3 linked regions of the Homo sapiens genome follow. The protein of the gene in region 3 interacts with the protein of the main gene of each other region in a pairwise test. Each region holds a gene or a part of one and is shown on either strand. Other genes may lie near its edges.

Region 1 (3,752 bases), on a different chromosome or scaffold from region 3:
ATGACTAGAGAACAGTTTGGGCATGGTTAAAGGACCTGCCTCTGCAATCTGGAAGGCTGCAGAGGGGATGTGGTTAAAGGGTCCCTGGAACTGGAGGACATGAGCAGATCATTAAGGACTGCAAAAATTCAGTGGAATAGAGAAGTATTCAGCAAAGACACCTGCAGAAAGAAAGAAAAAGAGAGAAGGCAAGATGGGGAGAGAAAGAGAAACACACAAAGAGAGAGAGAGAATACCTAGGGAAGGAAGCTTTCACAGAAGCTGAAGAAAGTGATCAGTCTGGAGAAGAGGCAGCCCAGCCCTGGAGACCTGGAAAATCCCCTCCCTGCAACTGGCCTGTCTCTAGAACCTAATCACTCCTCCACATGAAAAGGATCAAATTCTCCAAAAAAATCTATTAGATTGATTCTCAAGGGTTGAATTTATGCAGGAAACCCTGACTGTGAATTTGAATTCCTTGCACCCTTTCAGTCAGATGAGTGGCCAAGCTACACAGCCTGAACTTATTGAAGAAATTTTGAACTAAAACAAAGGGATAAGAAAACACGGGAAAGAACTGGTATATGAAAATAAAACAAGTTGATCATTTTTTGATTACTTAAATAAAGCCTGCTTTTTTATTTCATCTGATTCCAAGAAGTAGAAAAGAATGCTTATTTAACAGTTACTGCCATCTTCGCTCACATACAGAGTACATGGGGGAGTCAAGACATTTCCTGAAAATCCCTCAGAGGTGAGTGAGGTAGTGACTTGGGGTAGCAAGACTGTCCTCCTAAGTCAGTTGAGGAGTGACATCGGGATGAAGCTCCACCCACAAGCCCTGCCCACAGAGGTCTTCTCCCTGAGTGTGTCCTCCTTTAGTACAAGATGAGGTTTAACTTATTGCTAATGTGTTTCACATTTTCCCTCCCCACCCATGTAAAGCTTGTCCCAAAAAAGCTGTTCTTTGATGAGGACTTTTTCCTAAGTCCTTGTCCATTCTCCCCACACATGCAGAATTTCTATTCAATATACTCTGGGGCTTACTGCGGGGTGACTCATGGCTGAAGCCTTATCTACACTCCTTATATACCTAACATGTCTTAGAATCAATTATCTGGACAGACAACGAGACAGAAAATTGAGGATTCACTGGGGAGTGAGGGCAGGACTGGGCAGAGGAAGAAGCTGACCTGCAATGTGTCTGCAACCCAGTGATCCTTCAGTTCGATGGGGATCTCTGGATCTGGAATGACCTTCTGGAGTTGTCCCCGTTGAGTCAAGGGTTGGGGCCAGAAGGTACCCCTGCAAAGGTGCATTGCCCCTGTGGTGCATGCAGCTCCCTGTGGCTGAGAGTGAGTTCCAGAGCGGAGTGCATCTCTGGAATGCATCTCTGCCAGCAGCAACACTGTTCTCTCAAGCAGCTGGGGTGTTACCCCTGAAAAGGTCATCTGGGCAGAGCTCCACAGTGTCCCCACATGCAGATTCTCCCTGTGGTGTGTGATCACAAAAGCTTTGCCCATACATCCTACAAACAAAGACCTCCTTCCTGAGGGCCACTCTGTGCCTGAGTGTCCATTCTTTTACTGATGCTCCCCAACACTCCCCAGACAAGGGTGCTTTCCCCTGAGGCTGTCATTGGATGTCTGGTAAATGTTGATTATTGCTAAAGCCTTCCCACAGTCCCTACACATAAACTTCTCTCCTAAGTGTGTCCTTTTGTGCATGCTCAAGGCTGACTGATGGCTACAGTTGCCCGTACTCTATACTCATAAGGCTCCTCTCCTGAACGTGTCCCTCCCATGCCTGATAAGGGCTGACACATCTCTGGAACTTCACTCACAATCTGTGTACACAGGGTCTACTCCCCATGTGTCTCTCTGGGGTAACATGAGGCTTGACTGGTCACTCAGGTCTTGTTCATGACCCCTGCATACACAGGTTTCTCCCGTCAGTGTGTCCTCTGGTGTCTGATGAGATTTGACTTATGACTAAAGCCTCGCCCACACTCCCTACAAACATAATGCTTCTCCCCTGAGTGTGTCCTCTGGTGGACAAGGAGGAGTGATTTCCGGCTAAAGCCTCGGCCACACTCACTGCACACGTAAGGCTTCTCTCCTGAGTGTGTCCTCTCATGTACAATGAGGGTTGACTTGTCACAAAAGCCTCGCCCACATTCCCTGCAAATATAAGGCTTCTCATTTGAGTGCGTCCTCTGGTGTCTGATGAGATTTGACTTCTGGCTAAAACCTCGCCTACACTCCCTGCAGACATAATGCTTCTCCCCTGAGTGTGTCCTCTGGTGGACAAGGAGGAGTGATTTCCGACTAAAGCCTCGGCCACACTCACCACACACATAAGGCTTCTCTCCAGAGTGCGTCCGCTCGTGTATGATGAGGGTTGACTTGTCACAAAAGCCTCGCCCACACTCCCTGCAAACATAAGGCTTCTCATCCAAGTGTGTCCTCTGGTGTTTGATGAGATCTGAGTTCTGGCTAAAGCCTCGCCCACACTCCCTGCAAACATAAGGCTTCTCCCCTGAGTGTATCCTCTGGTGTTTTCTGAGGGTTGACTTATCACAAAAGCTTCGTCCACACTCCAGGCACACATAGGGTTTCTCACCGGAGTGTGTCCTCTGGTGTCTGATGAAGGATGACTTCTCGCTAAAGCCTCGCCCACACTCGCTGCAAACATAGGGCTTCTCCTCTGAGTGAGTCCACTGATGTCTATTGAGGATGGACTTACTTCTAAAGCTTTGCCCACACTCCCTGCACAAATAAGGCTTCTCTTCTGAATGTGTTCTCTGGTGTCTGCTGAGGTTGGACTTCTGGCTAAAACCTCGCCCGCACTCACTGCACACATAAGGCTTCTCCATCGAGTGTATACGATGGTGTCTGATGAGGGTTGATCTATCTTTAAAGCTTCGCCCACAATCACTGCAAATGTAGGGCTTCTTCCCTAAGAGGGTCCTCGGGTTTGTAATAAAGTTTGATTCCAGGTTATGGTCCGGTTCATACTCTCTACAGTTGATTGCTCCAAATCTCAAGGTTTCTAATTCCTTCAAGCCTTTGTCTAGCTGCACAGGGTTTGGTCTTTGGGCTGAGCTGGGCTCTGTTTCTACCACCATGTTGCCTTTTCTAGGACTTGCTGACTGTCTTTGGAGTGGGCTGGGGAATGCCCTTGAGGTTTCTCTCTCCTCTGTCCTTGCAGACCAGGGTTTGGAGCCACCTCCTCTCTCCTGACCTTCTGCATTTTCAAACCAACAGCTTACATGGGAATACTGCTGCCCCTGCTGTTTCCAATGCCCTGGGCTAGAATTCCCTGGATGGAAGTGATTTTCTGCACATAAGCCCAGGAAGATCTGAAGTACATGTTGACTGAGGAACTGCTGACAGGAGAAGGCCAGAAGGCAGGAGGAACAAGTGTAGATTTCTGGCTTTGGTTCTGCTGAAGAATGAAAGTTTTCTGTTAGAGTAGCCATAAGTAGGGCTGCTGAGTTGTTCTGCCTTGTCTTAGGACAGAGAATGTTTTACTGCCATGCCTATAATTGATAATATAAGTATAACACAATTTGCTTCTGAACAATGATTCCTTTACATTCCATCACATTTTCTATTGCAATCCAGAAAATCCATAACAAAAATATCTTGAGAAACCAGGAACCTCTCAAGTGAGTATTCTGCTCTGTAAACAGCTTCAATCATAGTTAGCCTTCTCCTAAGCCATAGACATTCACATTGGTATATACTGTCCACAGCTCTTTGTTCTGCTTG
Region 2 (3,009 bases), on a different chromosome or scaffold from region 3:
TTCATTCCCCTACTAAAATGTTAACCCTGGGTAGACAATTAATAAGCCTTTATAACAGGGACAATCATCCATTCTCACCAATTCCATTTATTCTCATTTTCAATGAATGATATCAAGGGGTCTTCTCATTAACTTCTCAAAAAGTATAAACAGAGTTACCATGGCAGTGAATCGCCATTGCTTTTTTTTTTTAGTACATTTTTTGCTGCAGTCTATTTTGCTGGAACTATTGCTGCTAATTAACAGCTGGTTTTTAATAAATTTGCTTGCAGCTATTTGCTTTGCCCATTTATAGGAGTTAATTGTGGTCTCGCTGCTGCTGAGTGATTCCCTAACACAATATGCCTGTGATTCTTTACAGAATAAACTATGTTGTCCTGTTTCTTGGAAATCACAGGATTAATTAACTGAGAAGATGTTAAATTGAATTTTAAACCAAAGTCAGATGAAGGCTTACTGGCACAAATTTTGACTAATGTCTTTTTAATGTCTTATATATTTAATTTGCTGAAGTCAGAATATACTGTTGGTAATGCATTCAGAGCTAGGTTTGGGGTTTCTTTATTCTTCTCTGCAGTCTTTAGGGTATAGTTCTTATTTCTCATTTTGCCCTTCCTTTCAGCTCCCCAAGACTTGTCTTTTGATATTCACAGACTCTGGATGGGTTTTTACTTACTTTTCTAAAAAATATTATTGTTATTCACAGTGAGTGCGTTTTAGCAGCAGTGTTTCTTTTTCAGTTTTCCAGAGTATCAGGAAATGCCCTGGTGATAGTTTTATCTATTGTAATCAGTCCTTGCTATTTCAGGTTCTCCTGTGTAACACTAGACTCCATGGCCCCTCATTATACTAGATTTGGCAAATATCTGACAACTACGTTGCTCAAGTCAGGCTTTAGGTCACCTTCAAACTCTTGACGACCACTACCACTTAGAGAAAGTAGCATGATGTAATATAAAAGACCTAGGAAATGGTCAAGAGACTTGGTTCTACCACTCACTAGCCTTGTGACCTTAGTCAATTTCACCTTTGAGGCGGGGGCCGGGGGAGACTTGGTTTCTTTATTAAATATGGGGGTTAGACTGGGTACTCCTCCACACCCTTCCCAGTATGAATGCCATTGGTACATTGGAACTGGGCCATTCCTAGTATTAGGAATGCTTGCTTTACTTGGAGGTCTTAGCTTTAGTTGGAGGTCCAGAGGGCAATTCTTGGCCCTCTAACAGTTCAGATCCACTCATGGGAGCTAAAATGGGCTAAAGTGGAGGCACTAGTGTGAACCCAGTCACTATGTGGCTCCATAAAGCCTGCCATCTCTGGAGCTGTGATGAGAGGGTCATCACAATTCCAACAGATCTTAAAGCCGGGAAGTGACATTCTACAGATTTGAACCCAGTTCTAAATTCATATTCTTTTTGTTATATCCCTTGCTTCCTCCACAGAGTAAAGATTACAACACTGGTGCTTTTATCATCTTTAATGGATTGGGGATATGGCTTATAAAGAGTAAAAATTACAGTAGATACATAAAATAAAAGAAATTGGCTGGGTGCCATGGCTCATGCCTGTAATCCCAGCACTTTGGGAGGCCAAGGCCGGTGGATCACTTAAACCCAGGAATTCAAGGCCATCCTGGACAACATAGTGACGCCCCGTCCTACAAAAAATACAAAAATTAGCTGGGCATGGTGGCACGCGCCTATGGTCCCAGCTACTCCAGAGGCTGAGGTGGGAGGATCGCTTGAGCCCAGCAGGTTGAGGCTGCAGTGAGTTGTGTTTGCACCACTGCACTCCAGCCTGGGTGACAGAGCAAGACCCTTTTTCAAAAAAAAAAGGAAAAAGAATCCTCTGACAACAATTATTGCATGAAATCTTTTTTTTTTTTTCAGATATCTTTATACAGTCATAAAAGTATATAAAACCTAGGTACAATATAAAAAATAATTATAGATCAATCTAATGTGGCCACCACCCATGTTAACAAATAGACCATTGCCAGCACCCCAAAAACCCTATGTGCCATTGCAGATCACAGCCCTCTACCTCTCCCCAAGAGGTAACCACCATTCTAACTTTCAGGATAAGTACTTCCTTGTTTTTCTTTGCAATTTTACAGTGTGTGTACCTATCCTCAAACAATATAGTTGTTTTGCCCATTTCTGAACTTTATATAGATCATACAATATGTACTTGTCAGTGCTTTGCTTCTTTTGCTCAGTATTATATTTGTGAGATCTATCCATGTTGTGGCATGTAACTGTAGTTCATTCATTTTCCTTGCTTTGTTTCACTCCATTATAGGAATAGACCACAATTTATTTATCCATTCTGCTACTAATAGATATTTGGGTGATTTCCCATTTGGGGTTATTGAAGGACAGTACTATCCTGAACATTCTTGAACATGTCCTCCCTTGGGACTCATATGTGGGAGCTTCTCTGGTTATATTCCTAGGAGTGTAATTGTTGGTCATAGGGTATGCAGATTTTCAAACAACTGTGACTGCTGAACTTAATTATCACCAGTACTTTTAATCCATATTTTTTTTTTTTTTTTTTTTGAGACAGAGTCTTGTTCTGTCACCCAGGCTGGAGTACAGTGGCGCGATCTCGGCTCACTGCAAGCTCCGCCTCCCAGGTTCACGCCATTCTCCTGCCTCAGCCTCCCGAGTAGCTGGGACTACAGGCGGCCACCACCACGCCCGGCTAATTTTTTGTATTTTTAGTAGAGACGGGGTTTCACCGTGTTAGCCAGGATGGTCTTGATCTCCTGACCTCGTGATCCACCCGTCTCGGCCTCCCAAAGCACTGGGATTACAGGCGTGAGCCACCGCGCCTGGCCTAATCTATACATTTTTGATGAAAATTTAAAGTCTTCTGTTCTCGTCTAAAAAGGTTTGTCTTTCCTATAGAAAAATGCAAGAATGGCAGCAGAAAAGCATTATTCTAATACCCTAAAAGCACTAGGAATATCTGATGAGTTTGTTTCAAAGAAAGGCCAAAGTGGAA
Region 3 (3,653 bases):
AAGGTCTGAGGGTCCATGTGTAGAAGCAGAGGCCAGAGCTGACACCACATGGGCAAAGGAGTGGGCGTGTGGGGCTGGGAGCTGGGGCTCATGTGGGAGGCTGGTGGCTGCCATGGCTGCAGCTCCTGGCCCTGCGGACAGCCAGGCCTGGGGTCTACAAGAGCTGGGCAGGGAAGAGGACAAACAAGGTCTCACAGGTCCATTCTCCCCAGCCTCCCAGTAGGCAGCTGAGTCCAACGCAGTGCCCGAGAGCTCAGCCCTTGTCAAGGAGAGTCCTCGAACCCAGAGGGGGCTGGGTAAGCAGCAGAAGTGCAGAAGCCCTGCCCAGGCCCTGCCTCCCAGGCCACCACCCACCCCTCACGGCTGCCACACCCACCAGCCCATGACTGTCCACATCCTGACCCCTACCTACCTCATGACCTCCCCGACCCTGATCTCCACACCTGACCCCAAAGCACATTTTGTTATTTTTTGTTTTTAGAGATTAGGTCTCTCACTCTGTCACCCAGGCTGGAGTGCAGAGGCCATAACTCACTGCAGCCTCAAACTCCTGGGCTTGGGGATCCTCCCGCCTCGGCCTCCTGAGTAGCTGGGGTTACAGGCACATGCCACCACACCTGGCTCATTTTCTTTTACTTTCTGTAGAGATGGGGTCTCCCTATGTTGCCCAGGCTGGTTTCAAACTCCTGAACTAAAGTGATCCTCCTGCCGTGGCCTTCCAGAGTACTGGGATTTCAGGCAGAAGCCACCACACCCGGATCCCCAATAAGCACATTTATGTGGGGCGTGAGGTGAGGTCCCTGAGGTGCAGTGTGGACGGGTCTTGATTTGTCCCAAGTTGTCGCTGCCCTGTGCCACAGCCTCCCAAGAATGGATGCAGTCTACACCTTCTGCAAACCCCTGCCTCAAACCGTGTCCCTCCACAAGCACATCCAGCCACTGGGACCCTGAACCTCCTCCAAATGGACTTTAACTGGGGACAACTGATGACAGTCCTCCAACCCCAGCGAGCTGGGGAAGCCGTGGGCAGGGGCTGCGACTTCCTTTCTTCCAATCAACTCCACCACTAGCAATCAATCACTTGGCCCACTGGATAAGAACAGTGGCCTGCGACGTCAGGGGCAGTCCAGGTGCTCTCCATCGCATGCTCAGCCATGGCTGAGCACGAATGAAGCATATGGAAGTCACGCACAGACAGGCCCAGGGCAAGGTCTGCTCTAGACCCTCCTATGCAGGAGACAGACAACTTCCAGGACAGCGTGCCTGGGGTGCTCGCAGAAGGCCAGGCTGGCACAGGCAGGACAGGTGTTCTGTAAACCAACCCCAACGTAGAAGGGGCTGAAAGACCACCTACCCATCCTAACCCCTGAATTCACCATGCCACCCTGAAAGTATGGCCTCTCCTGGGCATCCCGAGGGATGGGAGCTCCCAGAGTGGAGGCTGCCTGTCCCGAGTGAGGACACAGGAGCGCCCTCAGGCCTGAGCACTCAGGGGTGCCACCCCAAAGATGAAGGCAGTGGTGGAAAGAGGTTCTATTAGCAGGCTGGAAGCAGCCACAGAGGTCCCAAACCATATGACGCAGCACCTGCTACCCCACGAGCCACTGGAAAACTGAGGCTGCAACTTGCAGGGGCACTGTGAGAAGACAGGGAGTGGCTCCAGCCTGGTGCTCACAGATAAAACGCGGAGGCATTTAAACAGGACCAGAGACTTTCTCGCTCTGCTCTGGCAAGCTCCAGGGCTTCCCAGGGGCCTCAGCAGCCCCAGAAACAGAGTGAAGAGACACAGCCTCACAGAGCTGTGCTGTGGTGTCTGGTACAGCGGGGCTCCACCTGAGAGGGCTTGGGGAAAAAGATTCTGAGGCTAAAACATTCAACCACTTGAGCTTCTGAGACGGGTCAGGAAGTGAAAACAAAGTGCTCGGAGGACACGGCAGTCTCCATAAAGCGTTCTGGGGGACAGGACCGAGGCAAGAGGTATGCACCAGGCAGCTGGGCCCAGCAGCTCAGAGATGAGTACGCTCTGGGCTCCCTAAAAACCTCACTCCAGCAGCGAGCCCAGGTGAGGAGGGGCTGCAGGAGGAGCAGGGCCCGAGTCCCCTGGGTGGCACAAGGGATTCCAGCCACAAGGGCTGCACCTAGAGTCAGGCTCCAGGCCTTGCTGCAGTTGGTCTGGAAGAGGGGCACCCTGAGGACACAGCCACTCACTGGGGACAAGCGCCTACCCATCAGCCCAGCACAGTCAGCACAAGAGCAGATCAAGAACGGGAAGAGCTCAGGTCCTGAAGAGCTACAGTCTGACAGGGACAAGCCATGTCCAGAGGACTCAGGAGAGCCAGCCAGGAGCTCGGCCAGCTGGCCTGCCCATGCCCTCCCCAGCTCCACCCACCCAGGATGTCCTACTGTTTCAGAGCCCTCGGGACATGTTCTAACCTCCTGTGTTGCCTCAAGCAGCTGCAATCCAGCAGTCTTGGTTAAGAGGCTCTATTAGGAGTGACACGTGAGCCCAGAAATGGCACAAAGTACATGATGTGCAGAAGTTCCCCAGACAATGAAGCAAACAGTGCGGGTGACACCACAAAGACAATGGGACACAAATGGGAACTGGGACTGTCGTTCAGCACCGAGATCTTTAAAAACTATTTGGCTTTTATAATCTTCACACATGCATTCAAAGCAAGAAACACACACTTCCAGGACATAGATAGGGCTCTGTCAGCAATGACTTTTGCCCCTGTATCTACAGAGATGTGAAAGTACGAGAAACCACAGCGAGCCAAATCCTCTCCTTCATGAGAACAGAGGTTTCAGTGGAATCAACAGCAGACGCTGGAATGCAAACTACGTGCTGACTCGGCCAAATGATATGAATTTAAGAGAGGAAAAGAATTCAAGGGCAAAGCACTGAAAATAACATAGCAAGAAAAACCTATTTAGGCCGAGTGCTGTGGCTCACACCTGTAATCCCAGCACTTTAGAAGGATGAGGAAGGAGGATCGCTTGAGGCCAAGAGTTCAAGACCAGCCTGGGCAACACAGTGAGACCCTGTCTCTACAAAAAAAATAAAAAGGCGCGGTGGTGCGTGCCTCTAGTCCCAGCTACTCAGGAGGCTGGGGCGGGAGGATCACTCAAGCCAGGGAGGTCGAGGCTGCAGTGAGCTGGGATCACACCACTTCACTCCAGCCTGGTCAACAGAGTGAGACCCTGCCTCAAGAAAAGAAAAGGACAATGCACCTATTTTATGCTCGCTGAAAGACGAGGCTAATCACTGTGGACACAGGGCGTTCTGGAATCTCAGCTGCAGGCAGTGAGTGTTGCCCGTGAAATGGAGATGCCGCAAAGCAACTACAGACATGGAGAAAATAACCACATCCTCTTACAACCGCCTCTGTGAAAACTGACCAGGACAGACAACTCCTCCCCAAAAGTATTACTAACGTGCTAACAGCTGGGGATAAGAGCACACATACTGCTAGAAATCTAAGCAGCCTGTTTTACTGTTTTCAGTGACTTACGTGCAAACCTAAGACTAATCTCTGAATGTCTGATCAAGACGTATTCATGTAAAGGCCATAAGTATGAAATTCTGGGCAACATGGTACATTGGACTCTGAGCCAAAATGCCAAAATACCACACAGGGTCCGTGTCCTCT

Evidence for each region.
Region 1: the proteins of JRK (region 3) and ZNF343 interact in binary tests that used the Homo sapiens proteins (3 or more experiments, as listed by UniProt).
Region 2: the proteins of JRK (region 3) and FAM161A interact in binary tests that used the Homo sapiens proteins (3 or more experiments, as listed by UniProt).

The regions. Positions count from the first base shown.
Region 1 is NC_000020.11:2,481,231-2,484,982, forward strand, and holds the end of ZNF343 (zinc finger protein 343), read right to left. Parts: intron 3,427-3,752; coding exon 1,931-3,426; 3' UTR 587-1,930; downstream 1-586. UniProt on the Homo sapiens protein: May be involved in transcriptional regulation.
Region 2 is NC_000002.12:61,827,162-61,830,170, reverse strand, and holds part of FAM161A (protein FAM161A), read left to right. Parts: intron 1-2,912; coding exon 2,913-3,009. UniProt on the Homo sapiens protein: Involved in ciliogenesis.
Region 3 is NC_000008.11:142,659,942-142,663,594, forward strand, and holds part of JRK (jerky protein homolog), read right to left. Parts: 3' UTR 1-3,653. UniProt on the Homo sapiens protein: May bind DNA.